Homo sapiens: one gene and its partners. The protein of the gene in region 6 purifies or fractionates together with the protein of the main gene of each other region. This does not show direct contact. Each region holds a gene or a part of one and is shown on either strand. Other genes may lie near its edges.

Region 1 (3,500 bases), on a different chromosome or scaffold from region 6:
AGAAACCTTTTCCACACCAGTTCTGCAGCAGTCGCTATTAGATGCTCGTGGTAGAACCCATCAATCATCTGGTCCTCTGGGTACTGGTGAGCATCCCTGGTCTTCATACCTGTGAGTGGGCTTTGTGGTGAATTACTGTAAATATGCTACCCTCACTTTTCTTGGCAGTTATGTCGATGAAATCAAGAGTGTGATGTTCTAGTTATTTTTTTTTATATATATTTTTAAATGTTCAATATTCAACTATTGAAACAAATGTACATCTGTGAACTAGCTAAAATCATCTTATGTACCACTAATATGCCCAGCACATTTTGTAAAACAGTCCTGATTTGGCCTCCAAGGGTATTTATTGAACTACCAGCAGTATCTAGGAGACCACGAAGGAATACCACGAAGGAATTTATGCTCCAGTGCTTGCCATAATTTGTCTGAGAAGGAATCTGTTAAATAAAAGCTTTTATCCTCTAACCTTTACCTTCATCAGACCTTATAAAAGGTCAAATGGTGATTCTTAAGTTTTTTAGTCACAAATCTTACTTATTCAGTATTAGTGCGAAGAGTAGAATACTTTCAAGTAAGCCTAAACTTACATGAAAACAAATTACATAAATCTAGCTCTGAGAATAGGAAATTAGTGACAAGATCAATCTGTAAGATGTTGAGCACTTATCTGAAGTAAATGGGTAATGAGTTTCACATCTTATAAATACAAGTTAGCATGTGTTTTCTCAAGAGTCCAAGGGTTTTCATTATTGGACTACAGCTTTAATCTTCTAAATGTTATTCCCCAAGATTAAAGAGCATCTCAAGTTAGATCACCAAAGATCAAAAGCTAAAACCAGAAGTATTTTTGTCATTGTGGTGGTGGTAGTGTTACTAATTGCCTAGATTTTTAAAGGGAAACATTTTTTTCACTGGGTTGTTTCGTTGAAAAAAATAGAAGCAGAAACTTGCCCAAAGTCACAGTGGTCAAACTGGAAATTGCACCAAAACTTGGCATACTGGTTCTGAAATCCATAGTTTTAGCCCTTATGTATACTGGTTAATTTGGAAGGAAGAAATATATACGTTCTGAAGTGAAGAGTGAGTGAAAGGAAGAATTCAGTGAATACATTGATACCTTGATATTATCTGCATTGTGGCTACATGTTACTTTTCTTCACAAGAGTGATATAAGTGAAATAAAGAATGATTGGACTGGGAGAAAAATGGCTCAGAAAACTTTGCAAAAGTACGACTGTATGTAAAGATAAGTATTCAACATTAAATGGGAAGGAGGAGAGCAAGCAGTTTAATATATAGAATTTTATAATTTTAGGCCTGCAAGGGACCTTATAAAACATGAGCAATGGAACACTTTTTTCCAAACTAAATTTCGTGCAGTGGAACTTGGCCGACTCTGTCCTTCCTCTATTCTAAGCACCCTACTCTAGCCCGGCTGCTCTGAGTTCAGTTTGTTACAAATATGGACACGAAAGTACCACAGGCTTTGCACAGCTTAATTGAAGTTTCCCCTTCACACCATGGTAAAAAAACATACTGGGATGGAAGGGTTTGTGTCTAGAACAAGAACAAGAAATAAACTCTTGGTCACTTACTAATATTTCAAAATCACAAAGCAGAATTTTGCTTGGATGTTTAGTAAAACATCCTTGGAAATTTAACTGCTTGCAGCTTCTACACTTCTTCATTAAATGCTGTCTGGCTAATAAAAAGTGCCATGTTGCAGCTTTATTTTATTTTCATTTTTTGGAGATAGACCCTCACTGTGTCACCCAGGCTGGAGTGCAGTGGTACAATCTCTGCTCACTGCAACCTCCACCTCCTGGGCTCAAGTGATTGTCCTGCCTCAGCCTCCTGAGTAGCTGGGGTTACGGGCGTCCACCACCACACCCAGCTAGTTTTTGTATTTTTAGTAGAGGGGGTTTTTGCCATGTTGGCCAGGCTGGGCATGGTGGCATGGTAATCTCAGCTACTTGGGAGGCTGAGGCAGGAGGATCGCCTGAACCCGTGAGATGGAGGTTGCAGTGAGCTGAGATCACACCACTGCACTCTAGCATGGGTGACAGAGCAAGACTCTGTCTCAAAAAAAAAAAACAAAAAAAAAAACGAAAACAGAATTCTGTTTGTTTGGATGACCTGTTATACTTATTTTTGATCTTGCTGAAATAAGCAAATCTTAGGAATCTTAGTCTACAGTTTCTGACAGTTTTTTTTGTTGTTGTTGTTTGACCAATTAGAACTAAATAAAAAGAACGTGATTTTCACATTTAAATTTCTCTTAAATGTATTCCTAGAACAGTAAGCCATTGGTTTAATTGCTACTTGATGCCAGTTTCCTTGAAGATAGCCGTTAAGATAAAACATGGTTTCATTGTTAATTCTGTAGAAAGTTACATGTTACTATTATGTTATTCTATTGGTGTATTGTTCCTTTTACTCACCACAGAGATTGTCCAAACACTTGTCATTATTGGGGCAGGCACTGCAGGTGGCTCCTCTCTTATATGGCCAAGTTGGGTAATTCCCTCTGTAAAGCAGAAGAAGGATGTCCATTAGAAGTTTTTCGGTTTTTTAAAATTGCAATTTACTATGAATCCTTAACTAAATCCAGAAGAATAGTGGAGTGAAGTACAAAGGTCCAGAGAGTTGGTAATAGAAGTGAAGACAGGAAGGCAGAAATGGAAGGCTGCTAATATTTGCATAGTTCATTCTATGTACCTGTGTCTATGCACCTGTTTTAATCTGCATCCCATTTAATTGTGACAGCTCTGAGAGGAAGTTATTCTTGTTTTACAGATGAGACAAAAGATGTAAGAGATACCTTTAATCACAATTTATACACTTCAGAGTCAGAGGAAACCTGGATTTAACTCCAGGGCTGTGCTCCCTCTCTTTACCTACCCTCTGGCCTATATGATTACTGCCATTTAAAAAACTGTCCATCTTAGAAAAGCTATGGTGACCCACATTCAATATTCTCAGTTGGTCAGCCCTCCATAATTTTCACTGGATAGGAGCCATTTGGCTGGTGCCTTCCAAAAAAATAATAAATAATGGTATGGGGGAATTTCTAAAGTACAAATTGTTTTCACATACAAGATGTGATATGAATAATAGCTGCTAATTAGTGAGCACTACCATGTGCTTGTCTTTGTTCTAAACAACCTTGAATGAAATAATCTTCACAAAAACCCTATGAGGAAGTTACTGTTGTCTATTTATACCCATTATATAGCTAGAGGCTGAGTCACAGAGTATAAGTAATTGACCAAGGTCACAGACTAGAAAGTGAAATAATATCCAAGCATTTTATATCCCCATAAATATCCTCATAGTAGTAATGGGGAGAGGGGGCACATTTATCTCAATGAACCTGCCATTGCACTAATTTTTTTTGGAACTCTGCTTTTGGAAAAAGTTCTAAACTTTTTTGTGTAATCGTACCCTTTGGCAGTCTGGTGAGGCCTATGGGCTCTTTCTCAACATAGTTTGTT
Region 2 (3,500 bases), on a different chromosome or scaffold from region 6:
TGAGTTTGGACGTCTCTTTCTAAAAGCTTAGTTCTCCACACAACTGAAGAGGGAGTGGTCCTAGTGAACCATGTAATGAGGATGTTTATTTAGTCTCTAATGAAAATGACTCAATCATGTTTAAAAATCAGTGGGAAACAAATGCATTAAAAGGAAGAGAATGACAATGCTATGGTAAAGGGATAATCCATAGTAGAGGTTCTAGGAAGGCAGAAGAGAATGGGCTCTAAAAGACAGTTAAAAGATAAACTCAGATATGTGTAGTGGTATTTCTTATATTGTAACTTTATTCGTAAAGGAAGATGGGTCATGGAAGTACATTTGCATTCATGGTAGTAGAAAAATGATGGTTCCCAACTGATAATTATTTTCTCCACACGATTGAAAGAGAGAAAGGAGGACGGAGACTAGAGGATTTAGGAGAGTAGGCAAAAGCTTAAAACAGGCATTGTAGAGTGAACTGAACAGAAAAATACAGGATGGCTAGGAAGAATGGGGGTCCACTTGAGGTTAATTATGATGAATTTATAGTAGACAGAATGTTACAAGTATTTGCTGTTGGCATATGACAATGAAGAACTCAGAGTGTTTTTTTCATTCAGGACTACGGTTTCCTCACCAGAGGGGCAGGAGTTTAAGAAATTGGCAGATGTTATCATGTATCTAAACTGCATAAAAAGAGGAACATTAAGTGTAGGAGTCAGTGGATTGGTGGTCCTAATGAAGTCAAAGATGGTTGTGGTGGGTGGAGTTGAACAAGCAAGCTGATAGAGGTTGTGATCACAGTGTGGAATATTTGAATTAATGGTTTTAGAAATTGAATATTATGAGTGATGACAAGGTTGACAGTGTGGCCATGGAAGTGGATGGCTGAGATAGAATAGATTAGGTCTTTAGAAAATAAGTAAAGAAGTGAAGATATAATTATCAGATGGGCTATTCAAGTGGACATGCAAGTTACACAGAATGATGGCAGAACTTAGGGTGTAAAGAAATTGTAAGTTGGTTGCTAATATCTTCAGTGAATAAGGGAGTGAATGACATGAAGGGTAAGAGAAGATATTAATTAAATGGAAGAGCCTTAAAGAAACAGGATGATGTTGATAATGTTATTTTGGCAAGAAGAATTTGAGGAATTTTTTGTGCCAGGCACTCTTGCAGGGCAAAGAAAACACTATATAAATATTACAAGACTCCTGTTTTCTAGGAGCTTGCTGTCTATAGAAAAAGACAGCCACATGAGCCATTAGTAACAGTGCAGTGAGGTAGATGCTTTAATGACAGAATCTGTATAGTGGGGACCCCAGGGATGGAGTGGTTATCCTTAACTGAAGAAGTCATTGAAGGTATCACTGGAATGACTATATCTGAACCTGAATTTTATATAGTTCCTAAAGTGAAGAAGGGGAAGAAGGACATTCCAGGAGTAATTTTTAAGATGTATGCCTCGTAACTGATAGATGAAATATAAACTCCGTAATTACATGCCATTGCACTGAAAGCTGTTATAATGTGTATTTTTTTTATAACTATAATTTCCATTTTTTGGCCTATAGCTCTGCTTTTTGTTCTTAGAGTTAAACATTGTTCTCCAGTAGGGTGATTTAAATTATGTATTTGTATGTGTGTGCATGTGTGTGTGGGGGGGGGGCATGTATGTTTACATGCACATATGCTTGCACACAATGCCCTTGTGTTTGTGGATCTTCTTTTAAAATTATACTTGAAATAATTTGTTACTAAAAATAATGAAAGATTTGTTTTATAAATATGTAAAATAAATTGCTAATTAAAAGCTAATTTGCTAATTAAAATAGTCATTCAACAAATTAAATTCCTACCATTATGAGTGAGGCTTTGTTTTAACGGTGGGAATACAAAGATGAATATGACAGGCTGTGATTTCAGGGAACTCACTGTTTATTATATTCCAAGCCCAGCAAGATATAAGTGTAACATTAAAATACTTATCTCGGGTAATACTGTGACTTTTTAAAAAATTATAACTTGTTTTTCTTAAGCTCTCAGACACATTTTTAGACTGTTGATTTATTCCTTCACTATTTATGGAAGAGGTTTGATTTCATCAAGCTACGAATATAGTTAGACAATAAAAGTAGTTAAAGTGGTAGACTAAGTCTCAAATATTAAGACTCAAAATAAAGTGTGTTTGTTCCTGAAGTAAGTGCCTTTCTTCTAATTATTGCTTTATTCTTCAAAGGTTGTGAAGATGAGAAAAGAAGTGAAGAGAATTCGAGTTTTAGTTATCCGAAAACTTGTCAGGAGTGTTGGCCGACTGAAGTCAAAAAAGTTAGTCATTTAAAGTAATGATCTTGTGACTAATAAAATGTCAAAAGTTGTTTTTATTTGATACTTTAAAATGTTTAGGGTGGGATATAGAGAAGTAATTAAATGTCTTATACACCATTTTTGTTTTGTATGCGGAGATGATGTGAGTGAGATAGAATGTGCTGTGTCAGCATGCCCTTCTATGGTTTGGACCATCATTGCTCAAGATACAGGATGAATTTTTTTGCTGCTTTTGCAAAACTCTCTTTTGGTCTTTTTAGAATGAAATTCCCTTGGGCTTGTGTGTTTTGTGTTATCAGAAGTTATTTTAAGATACTGATACAGCTTAACAAATCTAGTAATACCTTAAGAATCAGTTTTGAAGATTTTATATCACATTTTTTCTTGAATTGCTAAGTAATTTGAAATCTTCAGTACCTTATGAAAGTGTTTATTAGAACATTGTGTTCCATGTAATTTTTTGGAAAAATACAATATTTTGTATTTTCAGTATCACTAGTGTTAGTGAAAAAGTATTTTATTTATAGTTCTTTTTATGATGTAAGCATGAATACTTAGTCTTCAAGTATGTTTTGTTCCTGATTAATTTCCTATTCTTTCATAAATATGTCAGAATATAGCCCTTCTTTATTTTTTCCTTAAATGCCAGAGAGCAAATTTTCATTTGATAAAATTATAGTCAAACTCTAATTGTAAATTATGACATTTATATTACATTAAATACAATGTACGATTGATTGATTTAAAAAAGTGTTATTAAGGAACTAGAGAAGGCAAACTATCAAAAGTAATAGTCATTAATACAATGGCAAGACAGTACTTATTTTTGCCATTTTCCAACATATGGGTTTGGTTAGTAAATTGAGGTGTGTTTTGGGAGTGGGGGAAATGGACAGTGTAGGATAGTGGCGTGTTTGTTATTTAGAGATTTATTACGCTTTTCTAAAAAGAAATGAAGTGATTATCCATTACACTATAAGTCTAAAATTAATGCTTTGCCTGGCTACATATCGTAATGTATTTTTTGCAGGGGTACTGAAGATGCACTGTTAAAAAACCAAAGACGGGCGCAAAGATTGCTTGAAGAAATCCATGCCATGAAGGTAAGGACTTGTGTGGGTGTGTATGTGTGTATGTTTCTGAGTATCCTGTTATCCTGCATTTTGTTTGTGTGTGGTATTGCTTATTTG
Region 3 (3,500 bases), on a different chromosome or scaffold from region 6:
GCTCAAGTGATCCTCCCATCTCAGCATCCAGAGTAGCTGGAACTACAGGTGCATGCCACCACACCTGGCTGATTTTTTAATTTTAATTTTAATTTTGTAGAGATGGGGTCTCCCTGTGTTGCCCAGGACAGTCTCAAACTCCTGGCCTCAATGAGTCCTCCTGCATTGGCCTCCCAAAGTGCTAGGGAGTGGCCTAGGCTGGTCTCGAAAAAGTGCCAGACATGAGCTACTGCACCCGGCCCAAAGACAGGATTTGAACCCAGCTCTCTGCATATCCATTATATTCTACTGGCTCATAAAAATGCACAACTGCGGCTGGGCGCAGTGGCTCATGCCTGTAATCCAGCACTTTGGGAGGCCGAGGCAGGCAGATCACGAGGTCAAGAGATCAAGACCATCCTGGCCAACATGGTGAAACCCCGTCTCTACTAAAAATACAAAAATTAGCTGGGCGTGGTGGCGCACGCCTGTAGTCCCAGCTACTCGGGAGGCTGAGGCAGGAGAATCACTCAAATCCGGGAGGCAGAGGTTGCAGCGAGCTGAGATCGCGCCATTGCACTCCAGCCTGGCGACAGAGCGAGACTCCGTCTAAAAAAAAAAAAAAAAAAAGCACACTACCTTCTCACATTGTATTTCCTGAAGGAGCTCTTCCACCTCCTTGTCCTTGTCTTGCAGCAGTAACAGCAGGCGCTGGGAGAGAACACAGGCTGTCAGGTGCCCCTGGGAAGGGCAAAGAGGCCCGGCCCAGGGAGGACAGAGATTTGTGAGTACCTGGCCACTGGGGCCCAAGGTCCTACATACATTGGCCCATGTCAGAGATTCTGGTAGGAAGCACCTAACATATGCATTAAAACATTTTTTTAAAACAATGAACATGTATTTATTTTGCAATTTAAGAACAGCAATGTTAACTGTAGAAAACATTGAGAACACACCAAAAAAATCCTCCAAAGAAACCCCGTAACCCCCCATGCAGAGATAACCAGTTAATGCACATTGAAACTCATATGCTCAGCACCGTTAAAAAAAAAAAGTCATATGCCTACTTCGTTCCATAGCCTAAAAGCTCATGTTTACCATAATGTGATTAAATCTTCTGTGTCTTTTGAAAGAGCTGCTTGACGGTTCAAGTTACTGATGTATATCATAACTTAACAAGGGTTCTTGAGCTGGGAATGCACATTTAGGCATTATCGCCGAGCTTGCTGCATCTCCACTCCTTCCTCAACTAAGCATCAGAGGCCACAGACCACACCTTGGGAAACTGGGCCTCCGTCTCCCTCCCCTCTCTTGGAGACTTACAAAAGCATTAATACAGCAGACACTCCAAAAAAGTCTTGAAAGAAGCTGTTGAACTTCATGTTCAGGCCAGCCTATGGTTTCCCAAATTTAACTGGCTATGGAACCTCCCCTTCGGTTTCTTGCACTCATTAACATCTTGAGGAACTTAGGGTTCCATGAACAGACTTTGGAACATGCTGCTTTGGGAGAGATTCCTAGAATTAGGATTACTGAGTCCAAAGGTGTGTACTTTTTGATGGCTTTGAATCCATAATACTAATTTGATGGAAATCCAGCTTTAACAGACACGGATGATTTACAAATCCAACATCATCATTACCCTCTCTATGTTGGTGTCCAGCTTTGTGGCTCAAGGTCTCAAGTAACTAACTAGACAAGCCTATCAGAACAAGCGTGACAGGAGGACATCAGCCCATTTTACAGATCGTGAAACTAAGACCTAGCGAAATGCTCCAGCCCTCCTGCCTTGATCCAAGCACCTCTACACTTTGTAGTGGAACGACGCTCTTGCCACCTGTACCCACTAGAGTAGACAAGGGCAGCCTTAGTTACCGCTTTCTCTGAGTCGGCCTCCGCCAGCCGTTTCAGCAGTGCTCCTTGTTGCTCCATTAGTCTTTCAGAATCCTTCAAAGAAAGGCAAAGGAAAAAGTCAAGTCATTAAGCAATAAACCCAGATGTCTACATTTTATTGATTCTTTACCTTTTCCAAAAATTGTATTTTTTTTTTTTTTTAGAGTCTTACTCTGTTGCCCAGGCTGGAGTGCAGTGGTGCAATCATGGCTCACTGCAGCCTGGTCCTTCTGGGCTCAAGCCATCCTCCCATCTCAGCCTCCAAAGTAGCTGGAACAACAAGCATGCACTACCATGCCCAACTTTTTAAACATTATTATTATTTGTAGAGTTGGAGGGTCTCCCTGTTTGCCCAGGCTGGTCTTGAACTCCTGGGTTCAAACAATCTGCCTGCTTTGGCCTCCCCAAGTGCTGGGATTACAGGTGTGAGCCACCACACCTGGCCCAAAAAACTGTAGTTCTAATTTGAAAAGTAATGTGAATATATTCTCACTATAAAATAGTGAATGCTAATAAAGCTACAGTTCCTCCTGTACCCACCTCCAAACCCTACCCTACTGCTATTAGTTTGAGGAGTATCCTTCCCATCCTTTTTCTCTACATCTACAGAGAAATACTGTATTTCTCTGTATTGAAAATACTGTACAGAATACTGTATTGAAATACTGTTTCTCTGTAATGAAACAGCATTTTGCTGCATCAAGAGAAATACTGTTTGTCTCTGGGGGAAGGGGAAAGGGATTCATGTGTAACTTTAGGAAAATAATATCATATTGTATTTATGTGTTAATTTTTTTTAATTTTTTTTATTTTTTAGAGAGGAAGTCTCGCTCTTGTCCCCCAGGCTGGAGTGCGATGGCACGATCTCGGCTCACTGCAACCTCTGCCTCCCAGGTTCAAGCGATTCTCCTGCCTCAGCCTCCCGAGTAGCTGGGATTACAGATAACTGCCACCACGCCCGGCTAATTTTTGTATTTTTAGCAGAGACAGGGTTTCACCATGTTAGCCAGGCTGGTCTCAAACTCCTGACCTCAGGTGATCTGCCCGCCTTGGCCTCCCAAAGTGCTGGGATTACAGGCGTGAGCCACCATGCCCAGCTGTTACTTGATTTTTAAAAACAGCTTTATTGAGATATAAATTTGAACACCATTTAAAGTGTACAGCATGGTGACTATAATTAATGATGTATTATATACTTGAAATCTGCTAGGAGATCTTAAGTGTTGTCACCACACACACACAAAAAGGTAACCATGTGACGTGATGGATGTGTTAATCAGCTTGATTGAGGTGGTCACTTTACAATGTATATGGGTATCAAATCATCACGATGAACATCTTAAAATGTATACTACTTCTGTTTGTCAAATATACCTCAATAAAGCTAGAAGAAAAAATAAAGTATACAATTAAATGGCTTTGGTATATTCCATTATTAACTTTTAAAAATTGTGGTAAAATATATGTAACATAAAACTTGTCATTTTAACCTTTTTATTTCTTTTAGAGACACAGTCTAGCTCTGTCACCCAAGCTGGAGTGCATGTTGTAATCATGGATCATAGCTCACTGCAACCTTGATATCCTGGACTCAAGTGATCCTCCCACCTCAGCCTCCTCAGTAGCTG
Region 4 (3,500 bases), on a different chromosome or scaffold from region 6:
TTACAAATCTGTTTTGATGAAGGCTGGTTATATTTCCCCATTTGGGGATCCAAATAAAACCATTTCACTGATTGGCTTTCTGTGGGGGTGTTTCTATATGGGTATAGGACAAGAATTCTCCATTTAGGTGCACATAATCCTGTATTTTAAAAAAATCACAGAAAAAATTTAATGTTTTATTATTAATGGTTTTTTTTTTTTTGCACTTTCCTAATTTTTTCTCACTTTATTTTTCAGAATGAAACTAGTGATCGAGAAGATGGCCTCCCCAAAGGACATCATGTGACAGACTCTGAGAACGATGAGCCCTTAAATCTTAATGCTAGTGACTCTGAAAGTGAGGAGCTTCACAGGCAAAAGGACAGCGACTCTGAATCTGAGGAACGTGCAGAGCCTCCTGCAAGCGATTCTGAAAATGAGGATGTCAATCAGCATGGGAGCGACTCTGAGAGTGAAGAGACCAGGAAATTACCTGGTAGTGACTCTGAAAATGAGGAACTTCTTAATGGGCATGCAAGTGACTCAGAAAACGAAGATGTTGGGAAGCATCCCGCCAGTGATTCTGAGATTGAGGAGCTCCAGAAGAGTCCTGCTAGTGACTCTGAAACAGAAGATGCTCTAAAACCTCAAATCAGTGACTCTGAGAGTGAGGAACCCCCAAGGCACCAAGCCAGTGACTCCGAAAATGAGGAGCCTCCCAAACCTCGAATGAGTGATTCTGAAAGTGAGGAGCTTCCTAAACCTCAGGTCAGTGATTCAGAAAGTGAGGAACCCCCAAGGCACCAGGCCAGTGACTCTGAAAATGAGGAGCTTCCCAAACCTCGTATCAGTGACTCAGAAAGTGAGGACCCTCCGAGGCACCAGGCCAGTGACTCAGAAAATGAAGAGCTTCCCAAACCCCGAATCAGTGATTCGGAAAGTGAGGATCCCCCAAGGAACCAGGCCAGTGATTCGGAAAATGAGGAGCTACCCAAACCCCGAGTCAGTGACTCTGAGAGTGAGGGGCCTCAGAAGGGGCCTGCCAGTGACTCAGAAACTGAGGATGCGTCCAGACACAAACAGAAGCCAGAGTCAGATGATGACAGCGACAGGGAGAATAAGGGAGAGGATACAGAAATGCAGAATGACTCCTTCCATTCAGACAGCCATATGGACAGAAAAAAGTTTCACAGTTCTGATAGTGAGGAGGAAGAACACAAAAAGCAAAAAATGGACAGTGATGAAGATGAAAAAGAGGGTGAGGAGGAGAAAGTAGCGAAGAGAAAAGCTGCTGTGCTTTCTGATAGTGAAGATGAAGAGAAAGCATGTAAGGAGTTACCTTGGGCTGTTTATCAATGGCTTTATTCATTGTCTAAGCTTGTAACTGTGGAACATTGTATCCTCTTGGTATGTCAGATCTGTGTTCTGTTATTCAGCTTAATATTCTAAAATATCAGTAGGACACTCATTTCCCCTGGTTATCATTAGCTAAGCTTAATAGTAAGTTTCCTTGGAGTTCTATTAGCACATATTAATCTCTGACTGCCTCAAAGTGATAAACCACATGTCAATAGGAATATAAAATACTGTTTTTTTTTTTTAAAACTGGAAGAGGTAATGTTTCAAAGAAATACGTTTACATAAAAACCCCTAACTGTATTAATTGTTAGCTGTGGGTCTCTTTGACACTTAGTTCACTAGATCCCATCCAAACAGTAACAGCTCCCACAGGTACATCTCTTCATTTGTTAAACATTGTTGAATATTCAGATACAGGGAAGCTTTGAGAGGATTCTATTTAGAGACACCATCTCTCTCCAGAGTGTTTCAGTCTCTGCTATCTAAGACTCCATTTGCACAGATAGTATTACTTGTCTACTTTTTTATGAAACTTATCTTTTTTGGAAAAGACATATTTCATTATAACCTCACAGTTCTTATAGGAGAAGGAAAAGGTACCAGACATGCTGTCAATTTGTTAAGGGAGATGAGAAATTTCAAACTGACCAGCAATGATAGAGGAACATGGAGACTATTCCTAGAAAGAAATATGTAGTCCTTTTTAGTTCAGTTACTACTAGGCAACATAGAAAGGATGCCAGTTTTGCCCATCAATCTAGTTTTAATTTTCTCGATTTCCCAAAAGGAAAGGTGGCTGCTTTTATATTGATGATATCTTTCTTCATCTTTTGGCCAGTTTTTCTTAAGCAAAATAACAGATAATTTGTAAGATGACTCTGAATGAGCCATTTAGTTATTTTAAAAATTCTAAACCATGTGTCAGGAGGCCCTCTGATTTTATTTTATTTATTTATTTATTTATTTATTTATTTATTTATTTTTGCTGTATACTGCCATCTTAAAGCACCTGTTATGCTTAGTAATACAATGGCTGTGATAAAATAAAATTAATGATGATTTTCTTTTTCAACAGCAGCAAAGAAGAGTCGTGTTGTCTCTGATGCAGATGACTCTGACAGTGATGCTGTATCAGACAAGTCAGGCAAAAGAGAGAAGACCATAGCATCTGACAGTGAGGAAGAAGCTGGGAAAGAATTGTCTGATAAGAAAAATGAAGAGAAGGATCTGTTTGGGAGTGACAGTGAGTCAGGCAATGAAGAAGAGTAAGTGACAGTATAACATGAGTTTTCAGGGGTTCTTAATTAGGCAGTAGAGAGGGGTCTGTGTTATAATACAATATGTCCTGCCTAATTGCATGTCTTTGGGGATTTAGTATTTTAGTTCCTGAACTGAACACACTACAATGTGGGTGAATCTCAGAATTCATCTCAGAATTAACATGTTAAGTGAAAGAAAGCAAAGAGGACATATATGATTCCATTTACATGAAGTTCAGTAGGCAAAATTTATCTGTGGTGTTGGAAGTCAAGGTGGCAGTTGTTTCTAGGATGTTGATATTGGGGACCAGCTAGAAGGGGCCATGAGAGGACTTTCTGGGGAGGCTACATGAGTGTATAGGGTGCTGGTTACATGAGTGTATATATTTGTTAAAACTCATTGAACTGAACACTGAAGATCTGCACATTTTACTGTACATAAATTCTATTTTTTAAAAAATGGTTCCTATGCAAATGAGGATAAAGCAAATGAATGTTTTTACATTTGTCTACTTTCTAGAAATCTTATTGCAGACATATTTGGAGAATCTGGTGATGAAGAGGAAGAAGAATTTACAGTAAGTATAAGATGGAAATATTTCCTCCTTGATTGTGCTTTTTTTTGGTGTTTTTATGGCAGTGATACCATTATAGATGATTCTAATAAGTAGGAATAAACAATTATGATGTATTCAAGATAAAAATCTAGAAGAGGGATTCAGGAAGTAAAATGAAAGCGTATATACAAAGACATAAAAGGAAGCTAATGGGCAAAATTGAATTAAGGGGGAAGGGACACTTTGAGACAAAGAAAGTCACTTTATAATGCTAAAGGGCAAGATTCACAATAATTAGGGAACTTCCGATTTTCACAGTGGCATTCTAGGTGATTTGGACTAACCC
Region 5 (3,500 bases), on a different chromosome or scaffold from region 6:
CTAAAAGTATGGGGCCATTAGAATCTTGTCCTGCCACCACTTTATGAGTATTTATTATTAAGAGTATATGCCATCCTCACTGGTTATTTTGTACCGCTCAGGGAACACATGCCCACAATCTTGTCCTGCCACCACTTTATGAGTATTTATTATTAAGAGTATATGCCATCCTCACTGGTTATTTTGTACCGCTCAGGGAACACATGCCCACAATCTTGTCCTGCCACCACTTTATGAGTATTTATTATTAAGAGTATATGCCATCCTCACTGGTTATTTTGTACCGCTCAGGGAACACATGCCCACAATCTTGTCCTGCCACCACTTTATGAGTATTTATTATTAAGAGTATATGCCATCCTCACTGGTTATTTTGTACCGCTCAGGGAACACATGCCCACAATCTTGTCCTGCCACCACTTTATGAGTATTTATTATTAAGAGTATATGCCATCCTCACTGGTTATTTTTGTACTGCTCAGGGAACACATGCCCACAATCTTGTCCTGCCACCACTTCATGAGTATTTATTATTAAGAATATATGCCATCCTCACTGGTTATTTTTGTACCGCTCAGGGAACACATGCCCACTTTGGAGGAATTCTTTGAAGAAGCCATTGAACAGGCAGACCCTGAAAATATGGTGGAAAATGAATATAAGTAAGTATGCTCCTCATTAGCTCCTTTTAATTTTCTTCAATTTGTTTCTTCCTTAGGAATTGTGTGTATACTAGAAAGCCTCTTAAGAGAGGCAGTAGATAGAATAGTGCTTTTTCTCTTAGGTGAGTTTATGTTCCAAGTTCTTGTTAGTACACATCCTGATTTCAAGGATTATTCCTGTTAACTAAGCATGACTTGGAATCACCCTTGTTTCAAAATATAAGAAAAAAAAAACTCCCCCTGATCCCCATTTCTCTCCAACTATTAGTTCTGTTCTCTCTACCCTTCAAAGCACAGTATCTCACAGCAGCTGTTAACCTATCCTGTTCCCCTTAATGTTTTCTTCTCTTGGCGTCCATGAGAATCCAAATCCATGGTTCTTCTGTTTGCCCTTTGCCCTCGTTGCCCACTCCACCTCACATTCCATTTCAGCCTCCTCATCCTCTGCCTAACTCAAATTTTGGAGTAACATCAGGAATTGGTCTTAGCCTCTTTATCTAGAACCTTCTGGGTGACACCGCAGTCTCATGGCTTTAAATAGGAATTGAAGAGTAGTGGTTTAAAGGCAAGAGGCCTCTGGTCAGAATGCATAGGTTCGATTCCCTCTACCACTTACTTACTAGGCAACTAAGGCTAATTTAATTATTAAACCGCCAGTTCCCTTTCCTCATCTGTTAAATAGTAACAGTACCCATTTCACAGGGTTATTCTGAGGATTAAATAAGACAGTGCACTTTGAACCCTACAGGGCATGTGGTTAGCACTCAGTATTTGTGACTAGTGTGACCCTGTGACCAGAGTTGTTAATTACTGTGACCTCTTAACTAATCTCTCTAGTTGTGGTCAGTGCTCCATGCATCAGCCAGTGATCTTTAAAATAATTGTCCAAGTCTAATCTGCTTAAAATCTCCCAGTGAGTGCCTATTCCAAACTCCTTCCCAGGGCCTAAAAGACCTCCTTGGTCTGGCTCATACTCTCCTGTGTGGCCATGCCTCCCCTCTGCTTTAACCACAGCAGGCCTCTTGGTCCTGTCTTTCCCTTTCCTGTCAGGACCTTCACACTTTACTGTCTCACTTGCTTGAACCACTTTTTCCCCAAGGTTGCCGTGGCTTAAAGTCCCCCTGGCTGGGAAGCTCTTCCCCTCCCTGGTCTCCTCTTTTGCATTCTCGTGGTTTTTATTTCACGGCACTTACCACTATCCAAATGAGAAGGTGGCACTTACCACTTTCTCATTTCTCAAGTTTTCCTCATCCTTATGAAATTGTCTTATACCTTGTGTGTTTATCACTAGCAATGCCTGCCTTACTGTGCCTCAGGTACTCTCCACAGCTACTGAGTGCCTGGCTCAAAAGTGTTTGTCGATTGAAAGAATATTAATTTATCACTGTTACATAAGACTAGGTGGACTCATTCCTAAAGTGATAGTTCAAATTATTATCTCCAAAGAGGGTTTTGTGGAGAATAAGAAAAATGATGTGTATAATTGACAGTGAATTTTGAAAATGCCTAAAATAATCAAATTGTCTAAACAGATATGTCAGAGAGGAAGGCTCTTAACTGTTTAGGCAAAGCCTCACAGCAGGTGTTAACTTGGGAAGAGTCCCCAGTGTCTATGGGTAGTTTTTGTTAAGTCTTCAGTGGTACCTGCACATCCTAAAGGTAACATATGCTTATTTATAAGAGGTGACCAAATAAACCAAATTGCTATTCTTAGGGGAGGAAGAGACTTCCAATCCAAAACTCTTAAATGGAATAAATTTGTGGTTTGGTTTCTTCCGCAGCATTGCATATTTCTGACGCATTATCTTTAGAATTTCTCTGCAGTTTGTTTCTCACCTGATGGTATACCACCCTGATCATTGTTATACTTCATTAGGGAACAGTTCATGGATTCCAAATAGCTAGATGGATGATTCCTGTTGTATACGTACTGCATCCAGCCAGTACTGCACACACTTGTTGACTTGTTAAAATTAAACAAAATGAACGGAAACTTTGAAAATGTGTTTGCTGCATATGAGCCTGCCTCTTCAGGCATTGTTGGTTCCTGTGATTAGTTACATGTGCATCTATTGGTTTGTTATTATCAGTGGACTACATACTGAAAAGTTCTTTAGGAATAAGATTCAAATACAAAGAATGGCACTTTGAGCTATTTACCTTAAATACAGAATTACACATGGCAGAACTGAGCAGAAGGGAATACAGAAATACAAAGCTATAAATTACAAGCCTGACACCTCTTTTTATAGGGCTGTGAACAATTCAAATTATGGTTGGAGAGCCCTGAGACTATTAGCACGGAGAAGCCCTCACTTCTTCCAGCCAACCAACCAGCAGTTTAAAAGTTTACCAGAATATCTTGAAAATATGGTAATAAAGCTAGCCAAGGAATTACCGGTAAGTACCATAGATCAACTTTTCATACCCTTTAGTTGACATCTTCTTTAAAATTGCTGTCACTATGTGAGCAAAAAACTGACTTAATCATGTGAAAAACCAGTGATCCACAAGCTCCCATGTTTTAGAATGAGGGAAAAACACATTGGAATATACATTTACAGGAAATACATGAGTTGATAAAGAAGTAACTGATAATTTTCTGTACAGCATGTAATTTAAAGTTCAACAGGGCTGTGGGTGCGGTGGCTCACGACTGTAATCCCAGCACTTTGGGAGGCCGAGGCGGGTGGATCATGAGGTCAAGAGATTGAGACCATCCTGGCCAATATGGTGAAACCCCGTCTCTACTAAAATATAAAAAATTAGCCAGGTGTGGTGGCACGTGCCTGTAGTCCCAGCTACTCAAGAGGCTGAGGCAAGGGAATTGCTTGAACC
Region 6 (3,500 bases):
GAAATAATCTGTTTTGATTCTGAAGCCATATGATGGAAATCTAGGGGTATTTTACCAAGGAAATACTGTAATACCCAGTGGACAGGTTTCCTATGAATATACTTCAAGTACATCAGTGTTTAAATAAACTGCTGACTGGTATGAAAATCTAAGAATTTACAGAAATCTGAAATACATTTCCTTATACAGAATCAAATGGACTTGTGTTCATTTACAACACAACCATTCTGTAGCTAGGAAATGCCTTTCCTAAAATATGTAAATCTTATCCAAGATTATTCAAATGTATTTATAACATTCAAAAGCATATAAAGGATCACAAGACAATCCTATTAATATCCCCCATCTCCTCAACAATTTTATAATTTAAACATTTTCAAGACTGAAACCTATCAAGCTTTTTTTAAGACAAACTTTTACATATAAAAAGTAGTACCTGATCCATCTGTGCCTGAACCAGATCTGACAGACCCATCTGTGAAGGAAACAGATTCAGAACCAGAGTCACTGGCCTCACTTCGAGTGTCATAATCATTTCCCTCCTCTTTCTGGTCTCTCTCATCCTGTTCATATTCTTCTTCTTCCTCCTCCTCCTCCTCCTCTTCCTCCTCCTCCTCTTCCTCCTCCTCCTCTCCATCTTCATCCACCTCTTCATCTTCTTCTGCATCTTCTTCTACTTCTTCATCTTCCTCCACATCTTCTTCCACTCCTTCCTCCTCATTCTCAGTGTTGTTCCCTTGCTCATCAGAAGAACCACTGCTGCCAGTCTCATGGTCAGAGCCATATTCTTCAGAGTTCACTTCTTCCTTAGAAGACTGGCTGGATCTGCTTGCACGTCTATCCACTTCAAGCCCAATTCTCTGATGTTTAAAGAAAAAGGGAATCAGCAGTCATATAAAAGACAAGGTCAGGGTGAATAAACAGTTCTAAAGCCTCAAAAAGAATGGCTTTCTGTTTTATATCTGCAATAATATTTACTACCTCAGAACCATCTGGCGTAGGAGATTTGGCCCTCCTTTCAGGATCCCTTTTCCGGACACAGGTTTTTTCAGGTTGATTCTTATAAGGTTCTCTGGAGGCACTACTTGATAGACGAATTTTCCGATCAGCATCTAGACGCTTGTTTCTTTCAGATCTTTGATATTCCTCATTTTTATACTCTGTGGCTGACTTTCCTTTTGTACTAACTATTCTTTTGTTATTGCTAACAGATGAGCTCAGTGGCTTAGAAACCAGTTGTCTAGAATGGACAGAAGGCTTTTGTCGTTTGGTATCAGTAGATTCCATTCGATCACTTTTTCTTTTTGATCCTTTAAAATACAATGTAAAAAAAAAAAAAAGAAGTATTTGTAGTATTCCATTTATTTCACCAAAGACTGACAATAATATATACATCAGGAAGGGGGGATAGGCCTCATTTCTTTAAAAGTCTTCTGAGAGATTTCTTCTCCAGAGTTAATCTAAAAGAAAACATAGCTTTCAACTATGGGAATAAAACCATATATTTGAGAAGTTTCATATATTAGAAAAAAACAGATTATCCCTATTCATATGGATACCAGTTTATTATGTACATTTAGTGTTAACTGCCTCAAGGAACAAGCACAAAAAAGCACAGTCATTTTTTTTAAGAAATTGAATCTCCTCTATTTATACTGTTATTTCAACAAAAATAATAGAACTCTTACATACCCTTTTTCTCATTTTTATCTTGTTCACTCTCTGGATTATACAGTTCATCATCTTGTTCTGGTACTTCAGTTAAAATATCATCCAGAACATTAAGTTCTCCATCTGCAAATAAAATTAAAAATTAATAGGGAAAAATCACTATCATTGAACATGTATTTTTGAGTACTTACTAAGTGTGAGGCCACAAGCGCCTAGGAGCTTTTACTTTTATATAAAAAGCTTTACTTTTATTTCAGAATCAAGACACAAGATTAATTTCTATAAAACTAATACAGGGTAAAGAATTGGCCAGTCGTGGTGGCTCATGCCTGCAATCCCAGCACTTTGGGAGGCTGAGGCAGGCCAATCACGTGACGCCAGGAGTTTGAGACCAGCCTGGCCAACATGGCAAAACCCTGCTCTGCTAAAAATACAAAAATTAGCAGGGCATGGTGGCACATGCCTTTAACCCCAGCTACTCAGAAGGCTCAGGGACAAGAATCACTTGAACCTGGGAAGCAGAGGTTGCAGTAAGCCAAGATTGTGCCACTGCATTCCAGCCTGGGCGATAAGAGTGAGTTTCTCAAAATACACACACACACACAAACAGAAGTCTGGGCTATCTGGTCTACAAAGCCAGGAGTATACATCTCAGAAGGCATGAAAAGATATACTGAGGCATAAAAAGAAAATGCAAGAATGTCTCTATTTTTACCTCATTCTTTAATTTCTAATATTTCTGAGGGCTTTAAAATGTGTACAATAAATTAGTATACAAATACGTATGTACAACTTATAAATACACATTTACCAAAAATGTGCACTCTCCACAATTACAAAGGGAAAACGACTTTACAGTGGAGAAATGTTTCACAGGCCAAATTAACCAGATAATCAAAGTTAACATCACCAGTAATGAGACAAATCAACATCATGGACCTCCTGTAACAATGCTCTGAGAATAGAACAATGCTTTTGTAATGTTCTATGCAAAATGGAAAAGCTGAACCTACATGAGGAAAAAAATCAGACAAACCCAAATTAAAGGGCATCCAAATATGTCACTGTCATGAAACAAAGAGTAAGAACTATTTCATATCAAAGCAGACCTAGAGAGGCATGATAACTGAACACAGCCCACAATATTGGACATAATTGGAAAAACTGGTGAAATCTGAATAAAGTTTGTAAATCAGAGTAAGTAGCAATGTTATTTTTCTAATTTTGACTGTACTATGGTTAAGTCAAAGTCCTTATAACACATATTTAAGTATTTAGGGACAAAGATATATTATGTCTACAACTTACAAATGGTTCAGGAAAAAAGTGTGCACACATGCACGTACACACACAGACACACAGAATGAGACAAATGTGACAAAATGCTAACATCTGCAGAATGTGTTTGGAGAGTAAAAGAAAATTCTTCACACTGCACTTGTAGCTATTATGCTTATCTGAAATTATGTCAAACTGCAAGTTAAATGAAAAAATTATCAATGTGCTATATAATAAAAAAAACATTTAGAGCCTGCTGGTGTGGACTGTAAAAGCACAAAACTTGTTCAGAGAAGGGAACTATGACTTTATTCAATGATCATGAAAGCATAAAACTCAGTTTTGTCCCCACTTCTACCTTGTCCAACAAGATAAACCTTAGAAATACACACAAATACCATTTTAAATTTTAAAATGTACTAATGCTAATAGTAAATGTTTAAACATTAACTATTCCAATATCAAAAACATCTTTCCAAATTTAAGGTGTGCCAAAGAGGAAGTATAAAGCCATGAAAACTGATGAGACAGAACAATTACATTTGTGGCTT

What was found.
Region 1: the proteins of YTHDC1 (region 6) and KRR1 purify together in Homo sapiens (co-immunoprecipitation; one large-scale study listed by IntAct). This does not show direct contact.
Region 2: the proteins of YTHDC1 (region 6) and SRFBP1 purify together in Homo sapiens (co-immunoprecipitation; one large-scale study listed by IntAct). This does not show direct contact.
Region 3: the proteins of YTHDC1 (region 6) and ODF2 purify together in Homo sapiens (co-immunoprecipitation; one large-scale study listed by IntAct). This does not show direct contact.
Region 4: the proteins of YTHDC1 (region 6) and IWS1 fractionate together in Homo sapiens (co-fractionation; one large-scale study listed by BioGRID). This does not show direct contact.
Region 5: the proteins of YTHDC1 (region 6) and THOC1 purify together in Homo sapiens (pull-down; one large-scale study listed by IntAct). This does not show direct contact.

What each region holds. Positions count from the first base shown.
Region 1 is NC_000012.12:75,494,610-75,498,109, reverse strand, and holds part of KRR1 (KRR1 small subunit processome component homolog), read left to right. Parts: 3' UTR 1-2,447; coding exon of another isoform or gene 2,448-2,533; 3' UTR 2,534-3,500. Other genes in the region: GLIPR1 (glioma pathogenesis-related protein 1 precursor), read right to left, coding at 2,448-2,533. UniProt on the Homo sapiens protein: Part of the small subunit (SSU) processome, first precursor of the small eukaryotic ribosomal subunit.
Region 2 is NC_000005.10:121,971,975-121,975,474, forward strand, and holds part of SRFBP1 (serum response factor-binding protein 1), read left to right. Parts: intron 1-2,221; coding exon 2,222-2,310; intron 2,311-3,340; coding exon 3,341-3,413; intron 3,414-3,500. UniProt on the Homo sapiens protein: May be involved in regulating transcriptional activation of cardiac genes during the aging process. May play a role in biosynthesis and/or processing of SLC2A4 in adipose cells.
Region 3 is NC_000009.12:128,480,006-128,483,505, reverse strand, and holds part of ODF2 (outer dense fiber protein 2), read right to left. Parts: intron 3,294-3,500; exon of another isoform or gene 2,690-3,293; intron 1,927-2,689; coding exon 1,855-1,926; intron 691-1,854; coding exon 619-690; intron 1-618. UniProt on the Homo sapiens protein: Seems to be a major component of sperm tail outer dense fibers (ODF).
Region 4 is NC_000002.12:127,502,490-127,505,989, reverse strand, and holds part of IWS1 (protein IWS1 homolog), read left to right. Parts: intron 1-237; coding exon 238-1,306; intron 1,307-2,413; coding exon 2,414-2,603; intron 2,604-3,117; coding exon 3,118-3,175; intron 3,176-3,500.
Region 5 is NC_000018.10:216,048-219,547, reverse strand, and holds part of THOC1 (THO complex subunit 1), read left to right. Parts: intron 1-578; coding exon 579-662; intron 663-2,914; coding exon 2,915-3,062; intron 3,063-3,500. UniProt on the Homo sapiens protein: Component of the THO subcomplex of the TREX complex which is thought to couple mRNA transcription, processing and nuclear export, and which specifically associates with spliced mRNA and not with unspliced pre-mRNA.
Region 6 is NC_000004.12:68,336,591-68,340,090, forward strand, and holds part of YTHDC1 (YTH domain-containing protein 1), read right to left. Parts: intron 1,795-3,500; coding exon 1,693-1,794; intron 1,311-1,692; coding exon 982-1,310; intron 861-981; coding exon 437-860; intron 1-436. UniProt on the Homo sapiens protein: Regulator of alternative splicing that specifically recognizes and binds N6-methyladenosine (m6A)-containing RNAs.